Homo sapiens: one gene and its partner. The protein of the gene in region 2 purifies or fractionates together with the protein of the main gene of each other region. This does not show direct contact. Each region holds a gene or a part of one and is shown on either strand. Other genes may lie near its edges. The genes, in order: ZNF346 and ZNF316.

Region 1 (3,806 bases), on a different chromosome or scaffold from region 2:
TACAAAGATACATATAACAATAAGATTATAGGAGAAACAGATTATAGGAGAAACCAAAATGTTAACAGTGTTTATCTGTGAATGGTAAAATTATGGGTAACTTTTCTTTCCATTTATCCATGTTTTCCTTATCTCTTACAACATGATTATATTACTTTACATTAAAAAGTGTTTAATTTCAGAAATATAGTTATAAAGTTGTGTAATAACATGGAAATGTGCTTAAGCTGTAAAATTAAATGAAAAGTAAAAGCGGGATATAAAGGGTACCTGCATTATGATCACAACTATATAAAAACAAAGTATGTGGCAAAAGCTGAAAGTGAATATGGAAAATAATCTCGAGTATGAAATTTCAGGGACAAGGCATAATGCAGAGAATTTTCCCATTTGTGGGAAGAGAAGTCTGTGACCTTATAAAATTGGTTTTTTTTTTTTTTTTTTTGAGACGAGGTCTTGCTCTGTCCCCCAGGCTGGTGTACAATGGTGCGATCTCAGCTCACTGCAACCTCCAGCTCCCGGGTTCAAGCGATTCTCTTGCCTCAGTCTCCCAAGAAGCTGGGACTACAGGCTCGTGCCACCACACCCAGCTAATTTTTGTTATTTTTAGTAGAGATTGGGTTTCACCGTGTTGACCAGGCTGGTCTTGAACTCCTGACTTCAAGTGATCTGCCCACCTCAGCCTCCCAAAGTGCTGGGATTACAACAGGCATGAGCCACCATGCCCGGCCTATGTCCTGTGTTTTTAATACACATTATTGTATCCTCACAACCGATGAAGTAGACAGTATTATTATCATTTTATAGGTTAGGCAGTTCAGACACAAAAAAGTCATATAAACAGTAACAGTGCCAGGCTTTAAACCTGGGACTCTGTGACTTCAAAGTCCACATTCTGCTGTTTCATACCATGAATAACTAGATGTGGGTGTGATAAAAAGGTGTAATTATGAGTGGCCAGGTGTGGTGGCTCATGCCTGTAATCCCAGCACTCTGGGAAGCTGAGATGGGAGTATCACTTAAGGCCAGGAGTTCAAGACCAGCCTGAGCAATATAGTGAGAAGCCATCTCTATTTAAAAAAAAAGGTTTTGGCCGGCGTGGTGGCTTATGCCTGTATTCCTAACACTTTGGGAGGCCGAGGCAGGTGGATCACGAGGTCAGGAGTTTGAGACCATCCTGGCTAACACAGTGAAACCCCGTTTCTACTAAAAAATACAAAAAAATTAGCTGGGCATGGTGGTGGGCACCTGTAGTCCCAGCTACTTGGGAGGCTGAGGCTGAAGAATGGCATGAACCTGGGAGGTAGAGCTTGCAGTGAGCCGAGATCATGCCACTGCACTCTAACCTAGGCAACAGAGCGAGACTCCATCTCAAAAAAAAAAAATTATGAGTGATTTTTCACCCTACCTTTGAAGGCTTCCAAAACACAGTTGTCAGTAAACACAAAAAGGATAATAGTATTACTAATAGTGTAGTCTACTTCTTGGTCCAAAATAGAGAAGCAAAAATTATCAAGAAAACAATGAAATAAACATCAAAGAACTTTCACTCTTGACTAATTGCAATTAGCAGAGGTTAAAACCCCAGAAAGTCAGGAGTTAATGAGATGAAAGTGAGGGCTGAGCCCTAGTCGTGACGAGATAAAGGGGGCTATTTCAGAAGTCACTGTACTGGGAATGAATTCATGGCAGTTACAGATTGTGGGGCAGTAGTAGCAGCACTGAAGTATTCAGCTTTGAAAGGCAAGTCCCTGTCTTGAGGAGAACAGGCAGCTTTTGAGGATTAAAGTGAGTAGGCCATAACCTGAGCATGTGAAAAAGACAAGGATTTAGCTTTCAACTTGGAACATGCAGTAATAAGGGCAGGTGGATGCTGGGATGGAAAAATCTAGTGGGAGAGGTAGGAGATAGAATGCTCTCATGGTATGCGTGGCCTGGAGGACTTTGGCACTCCTGAGTTATAATTATTAGTCAGGACAAAAGCTCAGCCTATAGAGAAAAACCTATAACCAAAGAAAGGGAGGTTAGGTGAGCATAATTCTGAGATTGCATTTCAGTGAAGCTGGGTCTACTTGGAGATTTTTAAGGGTTCTCAAAAGCAATTCAACTTCTTCAAGTCTGTGGCCTCAGTGAGGATCTCTGTGAGCCCCTGGCAGTAGTGCCCTGAGGACGGCAGGGGTCCCACTATAGCACTACTCAGGAAAACCAGTACCTTCCACCTTAGTGGACTGCTGCTTCAGCTTTAAGTTCTTTGCGTGGGTCTTCCCCAGGTAGTGCGACTGGGCCACGACAGGGGAGGAAAAGGTCATGTTACAGATGGGGCAGCACTGGTTCTTGTCTTTGCTTCTGCTGCTCTTCTGGTTGGAAGAAAGAACACAGGTCTGATCATACCACTGCCCCACCAGAAAATCTTCAATGGTTCCCCACTGCCCATAACAGAACAGGCATTTATGGCCCCCCTCACACATTAACCCCAACCTACTTTCTAGATTCTTCTCCAGCTACTTTGTCCCAGACTCTACTCACCATCCCCCACTTTATTCTCTGATGCTTCCTTGCTTTGCTTTGGCCATTCCTGCTGTCTAAAATGTGCTTCCTTCCTTTCCTGCTTGGCAGCGTGTCTGCTTAGCCTTCAAGACCCAATTTAAATATAAGCTTTTCCTCTGGGGGACTTTCTCTCAAAAAAAAAAAAACATCATTCAGTAAACAACTGTCAAGTCCCTTTGTGTATTCCAGGAAGAATTAACCCTGCTCCTCTTCTGTGCTCCCAGAGTACATTAAATAGACCTCTGTCATACCACTTGCCACCCTAAACTGACAGTGTCATAGCTTAGGAGACTTTTCTGTGAACTCAAGTGTGACATTGGAACACGGACTATTTGACTCATTTTTGTTTCTTATCCTTCACACCCAGCTGGAGTCTGGCACACAGTAGATGCTCAGAGTTTGCTGAACAAGTGGACCATTAGGTTTTTTTTTTTTAAGACAGGGTCTCACTCTGTTGCCCAGGCTGGAGTGCAGTGGCACGATCTCGGCTCACTGCAACCTCCACCTCCAGGGCTCAAGCAATTCTCCCACCCACCCCTGCAAGTAGCCAGACTACAGGAATATGCCACCACACCCGGCTAATTTTTGTATTTTTTATAGAGACGGGGTTTCACCATATTGCCTAGGGTGGTCTCGAATTCCCAAGCTCAAGCAATCCGCCTGCCTCAGCCACCTAAATTGCTAGGATTACAGGTATGAGCCACCGCACCCAGCCTCCCATTGCGTTCTACTTGTTGATTATGATTAGGCTAGGAAACCATGTATTTCAAGACTACATAAAGGGATCCCAGCATCTCTCTCAGAAAGCCTGATCTCTGAATAGGGTGCAAATATGTAAAATAACTTGCCCAGGGTCATAGAGTTTATCTTGCCTTTCTGAATTATAAATTGTGAGAAAAGGGCCAGGTGTGGTGGCTCATACCTGTAATCCTGGTACTTTGGGAGCCTGAGGTGGGAGGATCACTTGAGACCAGGAATTTGAGACCAGCCTGGGCAACAAAGCGAGACCCTGTCTCTACGAAAAATTTTTTAAAAAATCAGCCAGGCGGCTGGGCGCAGTGGCTCACACTTGTAATCCCAGCACTTTGGGAGGCTGAGGCAGGCAGATCACTTGAGATCAGAGGTTTGAGACCAGCCTGGCCAACCTGGTGAAACCCTATCTCTACTAAAAATACAAAAATTAGCTGGGTGTGGTGGCGCGTGCCTGTAGTCCCAGCTACTTCAGAGGCTGAGGCAGGGGAATCGCCTGAACCCAGGAG
Region 2 (4,525 bases):
TCGCCATGTGACATACCTACTCCCCCTCACCGTCCACCATGATTAAAGGCTTCCTGAGGCTCCCTAGAAGCCAGGCAGATGCCAGCACCATGCTTCCTGTACAGCCTGCAGAACCATGCGCCAGTCTCACCTCTTCTTTATAAATGACCCAGTCTCAGGTATTTCTTTACAGCAATGCGAGAACAGCCTGACACCTGGACAAACACCCAAACCATAGCAGCCGCGCGTACTCATTTCCTGAACTGCTTTGAGCAGTTGCTTTAAAATCCACACTTTAATAGCCAGGAAGCTCTGAGCATTCACACAGGCTCACCCAAGTCAAAGGCTGGGACACACAGGCATCCAGAAGCCACCTCTGTCCCGAAGGTCACACGTGCCCCCTGACTGGCTCCAGCCCCCTTTCTAGTTTCAGAATCACTAACCCCCAAAGACTCAAGTCACAGAACTACGCCTGGGAGCGCCACCCCAACCTCCAGCCTCTCCCAGAAGCCAACCTTCTCAGTGTCCACAGCTCTTTGGCGTGTGAAGATGCCCAAAGTGTCGAAATCCACGTGCTGCGTGTTATGCTAGCCACCTCCAGGAGGACACGGCCCTGCCCAGCACTCAGGGCGCTGGGTACACGCAGCAACGGTTTCCCAACTGCCACCCACTTGAGGCCCAGAGGAGGGCTTTTCTCTTTCAAGCCTCAGGCCGCAGATTCAGGCTGGGCCTAGGTGCCATGCCAAGCTCAGTAGAGCTGTCTCCTGCCTGGCCACCACCTGAAGCAGCAACTTTAAACTCCCAGAGCCAGGCCGCCATATATGAGGACACAACAGAAGAACACTTCACAGCTTTGGAATAAAGTGGCTGCATGTTCATCTCATCTCAGGCCGTGTGTGTGTTATTCCCCATCCCCAGAACTCTCTTCCCCTTTTCCTGGGTGGTCTTCTGAGGCAGCCCCCTGGGCCCCAGTGGGTGACACAGTTCCCTGTAATTCTTCCCTCACAGCACTCACCACATCTTAAAAATACACTTATGAGACTGTCTTATCATCTCTCTCCCTGAGTACAGCCAGCTCCTGGGCGGCAGAAGCTCCCTTTGCTCATGTCTGAATACCCCTCACACCAGCACTTAAGAAGCATTCAAATACTTACTAAAAGAATGTCTAAAGTCGCCAGCCAATGTGATGGACACAGGATTTTTCAAACTCAGCATTTTGGCCCTACTGTCCTGTTCCAGAACAGACTGACCACTGCTGGGGGTAGGGGGTTGGGGGGACCCTTGGAATTGGAACTCACCCCAGAAGCAGTGGAGAGTCTCTGCCTCCAAAGACGACACTGAGTTCTTTCTCCCAAGAAGTCCACCCACGGATGACCAGAGAAGGTGGAGGACCAGCTCCTACAGAGGTCAGAAGCACAGCCAGACATCGTCCCCAACCCAAGATTCAGAACATAATGGTTTGAAAAACGGACCTCAGCAGTCCGGGCAGAGTTTAGATTCCAGCAACTCCCCCTGGGTTATCTCTGCCTCCCCCAGGCCTGCACTCTTGCCCTCTTCTTGCCAGCCTGCCAGTCCACTGTAAACACTGCTCACTTCTCCCTCGGCATCCAACTCTGGGTCAGAGGCCACAGGGGGTCTCATCAGCATCAATCCCAAACCAGAGGCCACAGGGAGCTTCACCAACGTCATCCCAAACCCTCATTTCTCAAACTCCCCACCTCAGGTGATCCACCCGCCTCGACCTCACAAAGTGCTGGGATTACAGGCGTGAGCCACCTCACCCGGCCCCAAACCCTCATTTCTACTAGGGCCCTGCACTCTAGGATACGGTGCTGCAGCCAACATTTAGAATGGGAGGTGACAAGGTATCTCCCAAGAGGAGAAGGGAGCGAGGCAAGGGCAGGAAGAAGAGGCAAAGCTTGAAAGTTGATAGAAACTCCTCACAAAAGCTCCAAAGCCAGGGAAACCCAACTCAGAGAGCGGGAGATGTGGGGGTGTGCTTGTGTCTAGCCCCCTTCATTCCCTCTGGGTGGCCCCCGCTGCCCTCAGAGCCCTTCGGGTCTTCATGCCCTCCTGAAGGACTTCCTTCCCCGACCACCACAGTCCTCACTGTCTGTCCTCGGATTCTGGATCCCCCTACTTTCCTGGGTTTGCTCCTGGTGCAGGTTATTTCCACGGGGGCCATCTCAGGTTCCCCAGGGTAGCCCCCTCACCACCCCACCCGGCCCCCAGACCTGCCCACACTTGTTGAACCAAACCAAGCACCGAGGTCTCCCCACACAAGCAGAGCTGGGGGCCTGATCCTCCTGGTACCTGCACTTCCTCTTGCCCATCGGGTCCTCGACCAAAGCCCAGCCCCTTTCCTACCTCTGCTGCCACGCGGGACAGCCCAGACCCCATCCAATCCCAGGGATGGGTGTCCCTACCTACCTGCCGGCAGCAGAAGACAGCCGAGCAGCCCACCGGGGCTCCTTCTGCAGATGAGGGAAAGCCCGGATAAGGCCCCCAAGGTCACAAAGCGGGCTCCTGGGGCGACGGGCCGAGCGCCTCCCGCCCCCCAGGGGGCGTCCGGAGCCGCCTCCTCCTGCAGAGACCTAGACGATGACAGCCCCTCCTGGATGGGTGTGTCCTGGGGGCGGCCGCGGCCCAGCCCCTGCCGCTGCGGCCGAGAAGGCGTGGGCGGGCACCCCGAGGTGTCACGCGTGGCCTCCCGGGCCTGCCCCCTCCGCCTCCTGCCCGGACCGGCCCCGGGGGTCGGCAACGCGCAGGCCCGGACGGGGGTCCGGGAGGCGGGGGCGCTGCCGCGGAAGTCCCTACCCGCGTTCCGCTCCGACTCTGCAGGCCCCGGCCCCGCCGCCTCCCCGCGGCCTCCCCGCGCCGGGCGTCGAGGGCCAGCCCGGCCCCGCCGCCGCCGCCGCCCCCGAGCGCAAGCCCGGCCCGCCCGCACCTGCCGCCCGCGCCGCCGCCCACCGGCCCCGCGAGACCCACTCACCGCGCGGGCCGGGCTGGCCGAGCCACGGGCCGGACACCGGGGCCGGGGCCTGCGGGCCGGCGGCGGACCCCGCGCTACACAAAGTGACGGCCCGGGAGCTGCGCGACGGCGGCGCGTGGGCACCGGAAGTACCGCCGGCCGGCCCCGCCCCGCCCGCGCCCGCGGGGGGAGGAACTTCCGGTCACGCGGGGGCAGCGGCGCGGAGCGGGGAAGCGCGGGTTGCGGGGGTTTGCCCAGCTGGGCCTCGGGCCGGGGCGAGGACGGGGCATGCGGGGAGGGGACGGGAGCGCCCTCGACACTCGTGGGGCGCCCACAACCTCGCCCCGCTCCTGGACACCCTGGCCAGGTCTCGGAGGTGACCCCGAGGTCCCGCCGCTGCGACCACCGCCTTCCCCGAACCCCAGCCCGGCCTCGTTCATCGGGGCGCCCGCTGAGGACCAGGCCCCGCGCTGGGCCCCCTCCGCCAGTCCACGGAGCCTGCCCGGGACCCCAGGATGGTGGAGGGAGGAGGCGACCCCTGTGGTGGGGAGGGGGCCAGGTGTCCACGCCTCCACCAGATCCCCGGGCCCGCGCGGGGTGAACGTCTTGTGGGTGGGGAGGGAGGAGGGACGGGCGGGGTGAACGTCTTATGGGTGGACTGTGGCGGTTGAGTGCAGGAGGAGACTGGGGTTGTGGAGCCCGCACTTGGAGGGACATGGGGTCACGGGCAGGGAAGCGATGTCCAGGCAGAGGGCATGGCCAGTGTGGGGGCAGAAGTGACAGGCGACCCCAGGAACCCAGGGAGGGGTCGGTGAGCTCAGCGGCCACCCCCAGACCCCCACCCACAAGCCTGTCTGCACCTGCTCCCAAGAGGTGCAGCTGGGGTGTCAGGATGAGCTCTGGCATTGGTGGAGTCCAGGGTCTGTCTTCCGCCTGGAATGGTGTGGCCTGGGCCCCTTCCCCAGCTCCCAGCCCGCCTGCACCACTGTTCTTGGTGCTTTTCTGTGGGGACCCCAGGCCTGACTGGGCAAGAGATAGAGGAGGACTCGGCCAGGCACGGTGTCTGTAATCCTAGCACTTTGGGAGGTCTTGGCGGGCGGATCACGAGGTCAGGAGTTCGAGACTAGCTTGGCTAACATGGTGGGTGAAACCCCATCTCTACTAAAAATACAAAAATTAGCCGGCCGTGGTAGCGCACCCCTGTAGTCCCAGCTGCTTGGGAGGCTGAGGCAGGAGAATCGTTTGAAGCCGGGAGGCAGAGGGTGCAGTGAGCCGAGATCACACCACTGCACGCCAGCCTGGGCGACAAGGTGAGACTCTGTCTCAAAATAATAATAAGATAGAGGAGGACTCAAACCTTAGTCCCACAGAGGGGTGCAGCCCCAACCCCTTGAATCAGACCCTCACAGTGATGTCGCTTGGCTCTTGGTGTCTTAAAATGTCTTAAAGTTAATAACATTTTAAAATAAGGAGTCCCATTCTTGTTTAAAAAATAAAATTGAAAAATCAGGTTCTAATGCGGGGTCTCACACCTATAAATTAAGCACTCTGGGGGGCCGAGGCGGGTCACACCTG

Evidence for each region.
Region 1: the proteins of ZNF316 (region 2) and ZNF346 purify together in Homo sapiens (co-immunoprecipitation; one large-scale study listed by IntAct). This does not show direct contact.

What each region holds. Positions count from the first base shown.
Region 1 is NC_000005.10:177,042,940-177,046,745, reverse strand, and holds part of ZNF346 (zinc finger protein 346), read right to left. Parts: intron 3,020-3,806; exon of another isoform or gene 2,530-3,019; coding exon of another isoform or gene 2,527-2,529; intron 2,358-2,526; coding exon 2,213-2,357; intron 1-2,212.
Region 2 is NC_000007.14:6,635,894-6,640,418, reverse strand, and holds the start of ZNF316 (zinc finger protein 316), read right to left. Parts: upstream 3,102-4,525; 5' UTR 2,972-3,101; intron 2,574-2,971; 5' UTR 2,410-2,573; intron 1,378-2,409; 5' UTR 1,278-1,377; intron 1-1,277. UniProt on the Homo sapiens protein: May be involved in transcriptional regulation.